3 separate regions of the Homo sapiens genome follow, and all the other regions are reported to be linked to region 3. Evidence: microRNA targets listed by miRTarBase, many of them from high-throughput screens and not tested one by one. Region 3 holds a microRNA gene; each other region holds the end of a gene's coding sequence.
The links. Region 3 holds the annotated microRNA hsa-miR-620 (AUGGAGAUAGAUAUAGAAAU, at 1,907-1,926, shown strand). A microRNA usually pairs through its seed, bases 2 to 8, with sites in the 3' UTR of a target mRNA and lowers its output. Matches are read on the target gene's strand: a 7mer-m8 pairs with bases 2 to 8, a 7mer-A1 pairs with bases 2 to 7 and ends in A, and an 8mer does both.

Region 1: the mRNA of FAM184B is a reported target of hsa-miR-620. Seed matches in the 3' UTR shown: 7mer-A1 at 2,227-2,233.
Region 2: the mRNA of FAT3 is a reported target of hsa-miR-620. Seed matches in the 3' UTR shown: 7mer-m8 at 1,207-1,213.

The regions. Positions count from the first base shown.
Region 1 is chr4:17,629,860-17,633,111 of GRCh38, forward strand. FAM184B (family with sequence similarity 184 member B) reads right to left here. Exons shown (of 18, transcript NM_015688.2): 18 at 1-2,766. The coding sequence ends at 2,673. It overlaps MED28 (mediator complex subunit 28), which reads left to right. Exons shown (of 4, transcript NM_025205.5): 4 at 1-3,252. Among named protein-coding and RNA genes, the nearest start is that of MED28, 17 kb to the left of the region's middle.
Region 2 is chr11:92,890,442-92,893,704 of GRCh38, reverse strand. FAT3 (FAT atypical cadherin 3) reads right to left here. Exons shown (of 28, transcript NM_001367949.2): 28 at 1-3,214. The coding sequence ends at 2,592. Among named protein-coding and RNA genes, the nearest start is that of LINC02746, 24 kb to the left of the region's middle.
Region 3 is chr12:116,147,238-116,150,500 of GRCh38, reverse strand. It overlaps MIR620 (microRNA 620), which reads left to right and starts at 1,847; the gene lies at 1,847-1,941. All of the region lies in intron 2 of MED13L (mediator complex subunit 13L), which reads left to right.

The sequences.
Region 1 (3,252 bases), not on the chromosome of region 3:
GTTAGAAACTTTCTGAATGGCAGTTTGGTAATAACAAACAAAAAGCTTAAGTTTGTGTCCTTAAATGCCTTACTTCAATACCCAAGGCATATGGCCTCAATAAAAAATTATGGAAGCATGCAAAGATTTTGTTAACAAAGATATAATCATTGCAGGGTAGAATTTAGAAATTTAAGACTGAAAGATCTTTTCAGTCACCTGCAGCAAGAAAGGAGTCAAAACCTATGTACGATCTCAACTAGTAAAATTTTCTCCTTGCCCAGGGATCATGCTGAGTTTAAGGACAGAAATGCAAAGTGCAGCCTGGGAAAGTGTTTCAACACACAAAAATAGAACCACCTGTATGTAGTCTTTTTGAAAGCACAAAATAAAGAGCAGTCCTACAGGGTTCACTGCTATGTCCTGAATGTTGATGTCCCTTCCAAAATTCATATGTTGGAACCTAATGTCAATGTAATAGTATTAAGAGGTGGGGCTTTTGGGAAGCAATGGAGTCATGAGGGCTTCACCCTCATGAGTAGGATAAGTACCCTTACAAAAGAGGCTCAGGGAGGCGCTCTTGCCTCTTCCACCATGTAAGGACACGTAGCAGGCACCCATTTCTGAAGAATGGGCCCTCCCCAGACTCCATATCTGCTGGTGCCTTGATCTTGGACTTAGCCTCTAGGACTGTGAGTGACATATTTCTATTGTTTATAAATTATCCAGTATAAGTAAGATATTTTGTTAGAGCAGCCTGAACGAACTAAGACACTCTAAGCGGGAAACTCACAAAAAATATTTGGTAGTGAAAAACAGTATGGTGTGTTAATGTATGGTGACAAGTGTTTGTTTGCATTTAAAAATGCATTGGAGCCTCGTTTTGATTAGGCAGTAAATTTACCTTTAATACGTAAGTTTGACAGTTATATGTAATCAGCTTTTTTTTTTTTAAGATGGTGTGATTGAGGTTAATGTGAACTGAACTTTCTATTTCTAAGCTGTCTTCATCTAATTTTACCTTTCTGTGGAAAATCAATACAAGTCAACCATTTTTATTGCCCAGTTATTCAAAGTTTTATTCAAAGAGCAAAGATTTGACAATGCATAGAATTAACATTGGTTTGTGGGCCACCTTCTGGGCCAGCACCAAAGACTGAAAAAATATTTTGCCCCCTAAAAGTTGTTATTGAGTCTTGTCAAATCACATTGCTCTGTCAGAAGGTAAGACAAATCAGTGTGGACTGAGAGCAAGGTCAGCACCGTGAACAGCCATTGCGGTTCCTTTAACCCACTGGGAATTCATGCAGTGAAGAAGCAACACACCATGAGGCAAATGGCTCAAACCCAAAGACCAGAGGTTCAGGGGATATATATATATATTTTTTTAATCTGTAGAGATGGGATCTCACTATCTTGCCCAGGCTGGTCTCGAACTCTTGGGCTCATGCTGTCCTACCTCAGACTTCCAAGTAGCTGGGTTTTCTTTGGGCTAATTATTTTTTTGTAGAGATGGAGGTCTCGCTGTGTTGCCCAGGCTGGTCTCAAATTCCTGGCCTCAAGCTCTCCTCCCATCTCAGCCTCCCAAAGTGTTGGGATTACAGGCATGAGCCATGTGCCCAGTCTAGAAGATCTTTGACTTCAAAGAACAGATAATCTAGAGACCTTCACAAGTGATCATGTTGGCACTATGGTCATTACACTGAGACCTATAACTGGGCTAGGATTGGTTATTTACAGAAAAACCTTGTGGTACTTAATTCCAATTCATGTTAATTTATGTTATCTTGCTTAATCCTTGCAAAGCCCTTTTAGAGGTGGGTGTTATCCCATCTATAATCTGCTGCTTGTCTTAGACCAAGGAAGTGAAAGTATTCAGTCCAAGCATGCTACCATCCATTTCTGGTAGGTTTGGTTTGTTTTTAGTTGGCTTTCCTGTTTAACTGTTATTTGTCTTCCTATTGAGGTTAGATGTGCATTTTGGAATTGCATCATTTTACATAGAAACAGCTTTCCAGTGGAGTTGACTAGCATCCTAAGGACAAGTACAACCACTTTTGAAATAGATCATGGAAATCACAAAGTCTGATGTTCCACAAAATGGAGTATGATGTTATGGACACTAGAAATACAAGGTATGGGTCATTAGTAACGCTAATAACATTTTCCTATAGATGACTTTTAATAACACTGGTTTAATGTCAATTTTTTTTTTTTTTTTTTTTTTTTTTTTTTTTTTTTTTTTTTTTGGAGACAGGGTCTCCCTCTGTCACCCAGGCTGGTTGGAATGCAGGAGTTCGAACTTGGCTCACTGCAACCTCTGCCTCCTAGGTTCAAGTGATCCTCCCGCCTCAGTCCCCCAAGTACCTGGGACCACAGGCACACGCCACCATGCCTGGCTAATTTTTGTATATTTTGTAGAGATGGGGTTTCACCATATTGGCCAGGCTGGTCTCAAATTCCTGGACTCAAGCAGTCCATCTGCCTCAGCCTCCCAAAGTGATGGGATTACAGGCGTGAGCTGCTGTGCCTGGCAGAACAGTATGAAGTGTTAACGCCAAAATTTGTTTTAGCTATCATATATAAATCATAAGCATATTATTTGGTTGGTTGGTGTTAGTTCATTCCTTCAATCGGATGATTTAAAATAAATGTTTTTCAAGTATCCTCTGTGATGTATCCCAAAGGTTAGCTTAGAAAGAAAAGTACTTGGTGAACCATTCCTGGTGCGGAGAGCCCTGTTTCTGCTGGACTTCTTTGGCTTGGGCCGTTTCACCATCTGGGGTCCTAAAAGCAAAAAAAGGTTTTTTTATATGGTTTTGAAAACTATGCAAGAAGCAGCTTAATACCCACCATCTTTTCAGGGAAAGATAACTGCTTGTTTACTCTTCAAAAACACCCAAATGGGACTGGCCAACATTAGTAGTGGGAAACAAATTGTAAAGGATGGGGCTGGGGAGGGAGTACCTAATCCTCATTTGGAAAACAGAAGGTTCACCATTGTTTGGTTCTCCATTGTTCCTTTGAGACTTAGTGGTTGTAGCTCTAATAATGCAGGATTAACCAAACCTACAGATCAAGAGACTTTGTTTTTATTTTTTGTGACAGAGTCTCCCTCTGTCACCCAGGCTGGAGTGCAGTGGCATGATCTCGGCTCACTGCAACCTCCAGCCTCCTGCGTTCAAGCGATCATTGTGCCTCAGCCTCCCGGGGAGCTGGAATTACAGGCGCATACCACCACACCTGGCTAATTTTTGTATTTTTTGTAGAGAT
Region 2 (3,263 bases), not on the chromosome of region 3:
GAGCTATTCTGCAGAAAATCAGGGGATGATATCCCAAAGAAAGAGATATTTTATATAGGTCACAGCAAAGGGTGGGCACAATTTTCTTCAGTGGCTTCATGACTGCATTAGGATCTATTTATTCTTTCATTACTGTGTCAGTCAGGCATTCTCCCTCAAAGAGATGCTGTGTAAGCAGTAGGGACTCATCAGCATTAATCTCATTCTAATATTTCCTGGGGGCAGGAAATGACATGTTGGTTTTACTTTGATGGTTTTTATGTCATTGCATTACTTAAAGTGTAGCAGTCACTCTATTCTAGGCCATTAGTTTGTCATTTTTTTCCATGATTCTTGCAAATGTGCTTCTTACATAAGAAAAATACCAAAGACTTTGTTCTCGAAAGCAGCCTTAGTGAAATTCATTTATTTCAAGATCACAGTGTGGATAATACCTCCATGAGTAGGTCTGACCAAGAGACAGGAAGAGAAAGGCTGGAAAACTTGTGAAGTGTAGTGTATCCACTTACTTAGAAAGTTTGGGAATGAAAAAGGATTTTTTTTTTTGCATAAACATTCAGAAACACTGACTCATAAAAAAGAAGTGGATTAAACGCAATTGAAATAACTAAAAATATGTCTGAGTGAATAATGCACAGACTAGGGACAGTACAATTTACACACCAATGCCATATGTCATCAGAAACTGTGGACACAGATTTGCTCATTAAGCAGATAGTGCAAATATGCATATATTTACCATGGCCACTGCACAGGCGGCCGTAATCTGATTGAAGCAAAAAAGGAAAGTCCCTCAACCTGTCAACTTTCAGTTTTGAGGACTGGATTGTTATATTTCCAGTGGAATGATTCTCCTGTTAATTTTGGAAATCATGGCCAAAGCCCACAGATGAGAAGGGAATCCCAGGGTGTAATCAAACATTACACACTTTTAAAACAGAGGTAAGTTCTGGAAAATTATAACAAAATACTGTTTTTAAAAAGCACAGTTTTGGGCTGGGCACGGTGGCTCATGCCTGTAATCCCAGCACTTTGGGAGGCCACGGCAGGTGGATTACGAGGTCAGGAGTTTGAGACCAGCCTGGCCAACATGGTGAAACCCCATCTCTACTAAAAATACAAAAAATTAGCCAGGCGTGGTGGCACACACCTGTAACCCCAGCAACCTGGGAGGCTGAGGCAGGAGAATCGCTTGAACCCAGGAGGTGGAGATTGCAGTGAGCTGAGATCATGCCATTGCACTCTAGCCTGGGTGACAGAGCAAGACTCTGTCTTGAGAAAAAAAAAAAAAAGCACAATTTTGCTTTATTGGCAGTACCAAAATAAAGTTAACTGAACCAGAGTAAAATATGGCATTTGATGTTTCTCTAACACCATAGAGATCAGAGAAATTGAAAGGTATGCCATGCTCGCCGGCAGAATTTTCAACATGGTCCATTTCCCAAAACCTTCACATTAGCTTTCCTCAAGAGCAGCCTTACTGAGTGCAAGCACATATTTGTACATAGGCCCAGACACACACACACTATTATAATTTATACACAATAACTAGTCTACTTTCCTCTTTTCTTAACATAATTGTATTTATAATGGTGATGCTACCGATTTAGAATAACAGACACCTTTCCTCTGCATTATGAAGAATTGTGATTATCTAGGCCGCAAACTTTGAAGGTATCGTTTTTTCTTTTTTCCCCCCTGAATTTGTGAGTTTTGCTTAAACTTCTAAAAATATCTAATTGTAGAGAAGCTATATGAACAAAGCCAACTTCTGTAGCAATGTTAGATTTACCAACTGGAATATTTACCAGAAAACACAAAACCAACCAGATAATCACATTCTTTCTAATGTTCAAACAACTTTAACTTCCTCCCCCACCCACCAAATGGAACCCAAAAAGCCTCATGTTGCTCTTCATTGATACCTTTCTTGAAGATCATAAAACCCAACTATATTAGATTGGATGCTTAACACAAACAAACAGAAATAACTGAGCATACTAAACATGTTATTCAAGCCTAATTTTATAGCTGAAAATTGGGCAGCTTATCAAAAAAATAGAGTTGATTTAAAAGGCTTCAGCCCATTTTCTGGTTTGTTTAATAATATTTGTTTCTCTTCTCTTTCGCCTAAGAGACTAACTTTTCCAACAATCATTACTACTATTTTCATTTCATTGGCTCAAAATTACATGCAACAATGCCTCTTTGATTGTTGCCAGTTTTTAATACTGCAAGGACTGATGCTGTAACACTTTCCAGGGCACAATACTGCACAAAGCCATACAAGACTGGCTGTATAACTTAGTGGGTGAAATAATTTTTCCCTCTTTGCATTTTTAGCTGTGAACATAGGTACCTACATCAAGGATTACCAGTCACCTCTCAAAAACAATTTCTGAGCCTTTCATTTTCACCCAACTGGAATCAAGCTTGCTTGTTGGGACAGTATGACTTGTGAAGAAGTTTCTAGTGGAAAAATACAGTATTCCCTTCTCATTCCACAGACAATGCTCCACTGGGACAGAAGCCCAGCCAATCTGCTTCCACTTTTCTGTAACAAACAGGGTGAAGTACCCAAGATGTGATGTCTACACTTGAGTCTGATGCTGAGTCTCCACAAAGGGAATGTGAAGGCTGGCGAGGCTGAGCTCTCCCACGCTCTCGTAGTCACTCATGGCTACTTCGGAATCGTCAAAGCCGCAGTTGGCAGACACATCCGAGGATGAGGTGCCTCTGGAATTGTGCAAGGACAGAGACACGCTGTCTGCTGGGCCTGTGGGCTCTGTGCCCTGGTTCATGCTCACAGCAAAAGTACTAAATTCACAGCTGGCAGGCGGGCCCACCAAATCCGTTTCGTTGGGGAATGGGTGAGGAGGGAGATACTGGCTAGGATGAAACTGGGGCCTTCTCCTGCAGTCTGGGCTCAGTGTGCTGGCCAGGGAGACAGGCTGGGAGGGTGGCAGGGCCTCATATTGGTCTGGGAAGTCCTCCGGGAGAGGAGGAGGCAGCTGGTCCTGACTCAAGAACTCCTCTTCATGAGGGGGTGGGTATTCACTGTCAATGTCATAACCACCCAGGTAGTAATCGCTCTCCAGCTCCCGTGTGCTCCCCTGGTGTGCAGACCCTCCATCCTGGTTCTCATAGTTGGGCACTTCCTCTATGTCCGACAGGCGGGCCCCTGGCATCCAATCAGAGGTGTCCCAGTGATAGGCTGCAAGAGAAAAACCATGACAGTTAATTTCCTCTAGACTGGAGTTGGT
Region 3 (3,263 bases):
TTAGAATGCCAGCCTGGAGCACTGAGTCTTTCCCACCTCATTGATTATAGAAGTTTAGTTTACTAAATTATGACAAGATCTAGATGTAACAAGAAGAGTAGAAATGACTTATTTTTTGCCTTCTTGGATTTGCTTTCCAAGACTTTGTTGTAATAAAATTTGAGTACGTTGATAAGCTGGCACTGCTGTAAGGGAAGGTAGGCTCTGGCCTTAGGCGGACACAAGAGAACTAGACACTTGGTGGTTTGTTACATGTTGTGTGAAGTTAATGTCCAGTGACACAGCCTGCATGGTCAGCCAGAAAAGAGATTTGGCTTAGGGCCATGCTGGTATCACAGCGATCTCAGCGTCAGCTCTGATTCCAATTAGGTCTTTACAGAGATTCTTGCATTTAGAGCCATTCTTTTGACAACTAAATCTGTCCATGTGTGCATTTATTAAATGTGTATACTTGGGTCTAATTTTGTATTTGATCCACTTCCAGAGAAATGAATTTATTCATTCATTAAAAATGGATACATTAAAAAAATGTAACTATCAGAGGGCAAAGTGAAAGAAATATCACACCTTTCTTTTTCTGTCTTCCATTTCTTCCTCAGCCCTTTAAAAATATGTTATTTTATCATTCATTTATTAAACATTTTTTATTGCCAGCTAAGCTGCAGGCACTATAGGGGCATATGAAAGGAACTTAATGTCCACTTACTCATCTCTAGCCAAACCATTCTCAATGCCTAACTCTTATTTTCTGTGTTTTTATTCATGTTGTTTCTTCTGCTTAGGTCATCTGTATCAGCGTCTTTCCTTAATCTCCCTGTTTACTTATTCTAAATGTTACCCACCCTTTAAGGTCTGATTTAATATTATTGGGAGATTTGGCATTTAGGTGAAATGTAAAACTCTTCTTTCACAAATACCGGATACTGTTTTTTAAGTAACTTGCTTGTTAGTAATCATTTGACTTTTTGGGCATAGCCTGAGCTGTTCTTTTTAGAGCCAGCCTTCTTTGTCAAATGAGAATTAAAAAAGAAAAATGCGGGAAGCATGTTTCACAGATGGAAGATGAGGTTAATCAATCAAACATATTATCTAAACCATGCAGAATTCCTTTCTAGGGTTGTTGGGGGAATATATTTAACAATAGGTCATGACAGCTGAGCTCTAGACAATTCCTTCTGATCAGCCTTTAATTAATCTAGTGGGGTCTAAGACTTAACTGTATATAGCTAACTATAATACATGACAAAATATGAGAAGTTCTAGAATATAAACATAATCAAGAATGCCTTAAGTCAGGAAAGAGGGAAGTTAGTCTACTTGGAGGGATATGAGGAAAGTCTTATGGAAAACATGACATAGTAATAAGCAGAGATGGGAGCAGGGTAGCCTATTCTGGGCACATGGTACGGTGCATGAGCAAAGGTATGAATACCGGATGTGATCAAAGTATCTCAAACAATGAGTTGTTAGTGGGTAGGAAATAGAAGGAAGTATACAGAGAAAACTGAACAAATAGGTGGGACAAAAATAGTACAGTTATAAGATCATTAGACTATTTTTAGTGAGTTTAAAAACATGATCAGAGCCATGCTTTAGTAAGGTGACAGAAAGTGGTAAGAGTGGATCGAAGGCAATACTGAGGAACAGATCTACATGGCTAGTTGAAGACAAGTGAAAGATTTCAAAGTGTGGTTATTGATTGGTTAGACGAATAGAGTATTACATTCCCCATCTTCTTAAAGCAAAGCCTCCTTTCTTAGGAGGTAACCTAAATTCCAATAATTTCTCCTTTCTTTTATGCTCCTCTTTCCCAAAATAAGAAAATCAAGATAAACTACTTATATCTATATATATCTATATCTAGCTCCGTATATATATATATATATATATAGATATCTCCATATATATGGAGATAGATATAGAAATAAAACAAGCAAAGAAGTTTTTAGTATGGATTGTCAACTTGACATCACTTTTTCAGTGATTTTATCTTTAGCTGGTTACTATATAAAACACTTTTGTCATTGACATGAAAGTTTTTCAAACTTAATTTTTCTCTTTTTCCTTTTTGAGCCACTTGCAGTAGCACTCCTCATTTTGTAGGAGAGAAGTATAATCCCATTTATAAGGTTCACCATCAACAATTATAAATAATTTTAATATATGGCTTTGTGTAGTTCCACAAAAATGTATTTAATATTGGCTTTTTTTAAAAGCAAAATATAATTGTAGGGGAGACGGTTGAGTTATTTGCACACTAAGTGAGAAATTCAGGAAATACTTGAATTTTATTAATCTTCAGAACTAAATAAATGTCTGTATATATGTGTATGTTTATATACATGAATGAATGGAAATGAATGACTTTAATACCAAATCAGTCCTAGCTGCTTGAACCCCCGCCCCCCTCCACTCCCGCCCCCCTCTTTTTTTTTTTTTTTTTTTTTTTGAGATGGGGTCTTGCTCTGTAGCCCAAGCTGGAGTGCAGTGGCATGATTTTGGCTCACTGCAACCTCCTGCCTCCCGGGCCAGGAGAAGTGATTCTCCTGCCTAAGCCTCCCAAGTAGCTGGGATTACAGGTGCACGCCACCAAGCCCGGCTAATTTTTTTGTTAAAAAAACCTCATCTTTTAACAGTATATATGATAATTACATGTTACTCAATAATATTATGGGTAGTTTTTTAAATTAGCTTTTTTTAGAATTATGAAATTAGCACATGTTCACTGTATATTTGAACAATATAAGGATGAATGTTGTAAAAAGTGTAAATACCCAACCGTTCTTCTTGTAAGGTAGAAAAATTACAGTTTGGTATATTACAGATAGGTTCTTTGAAAGCCTGGAAAGAAATCTTTAGCATATCGTGCTGTCAAGATGTCTTTAGCAGAGTCGTTAATACAAGATGACCTTTAGGTTGCTTATAAGTTAAAGACTGCTCTGTCGCCTGCAGTCATGTTTATATGTATGAACATATTTCACCATACTTTTTACAGAGGTTATATTTGGCAAGGATAACAGTAACAGTAAAACAGTTTTGTTTTACTTTTTGTTGCAGCTGATAAAAATTATGATGTGAAGAGTCTGATACTATAAAACTGTCTGGTTATTTCTGTAAGTTTTAAACTGAAATTTATAGCCATACCATGAAGAATATGAAATTCTTAGATGCAGTATAATGTTGCCAAATTATACAAGTAAAGTCAGGTGTTAATATTTATTTTTTTACTATTTGAAATGATAAATGATATCAGAGTTTTAGGA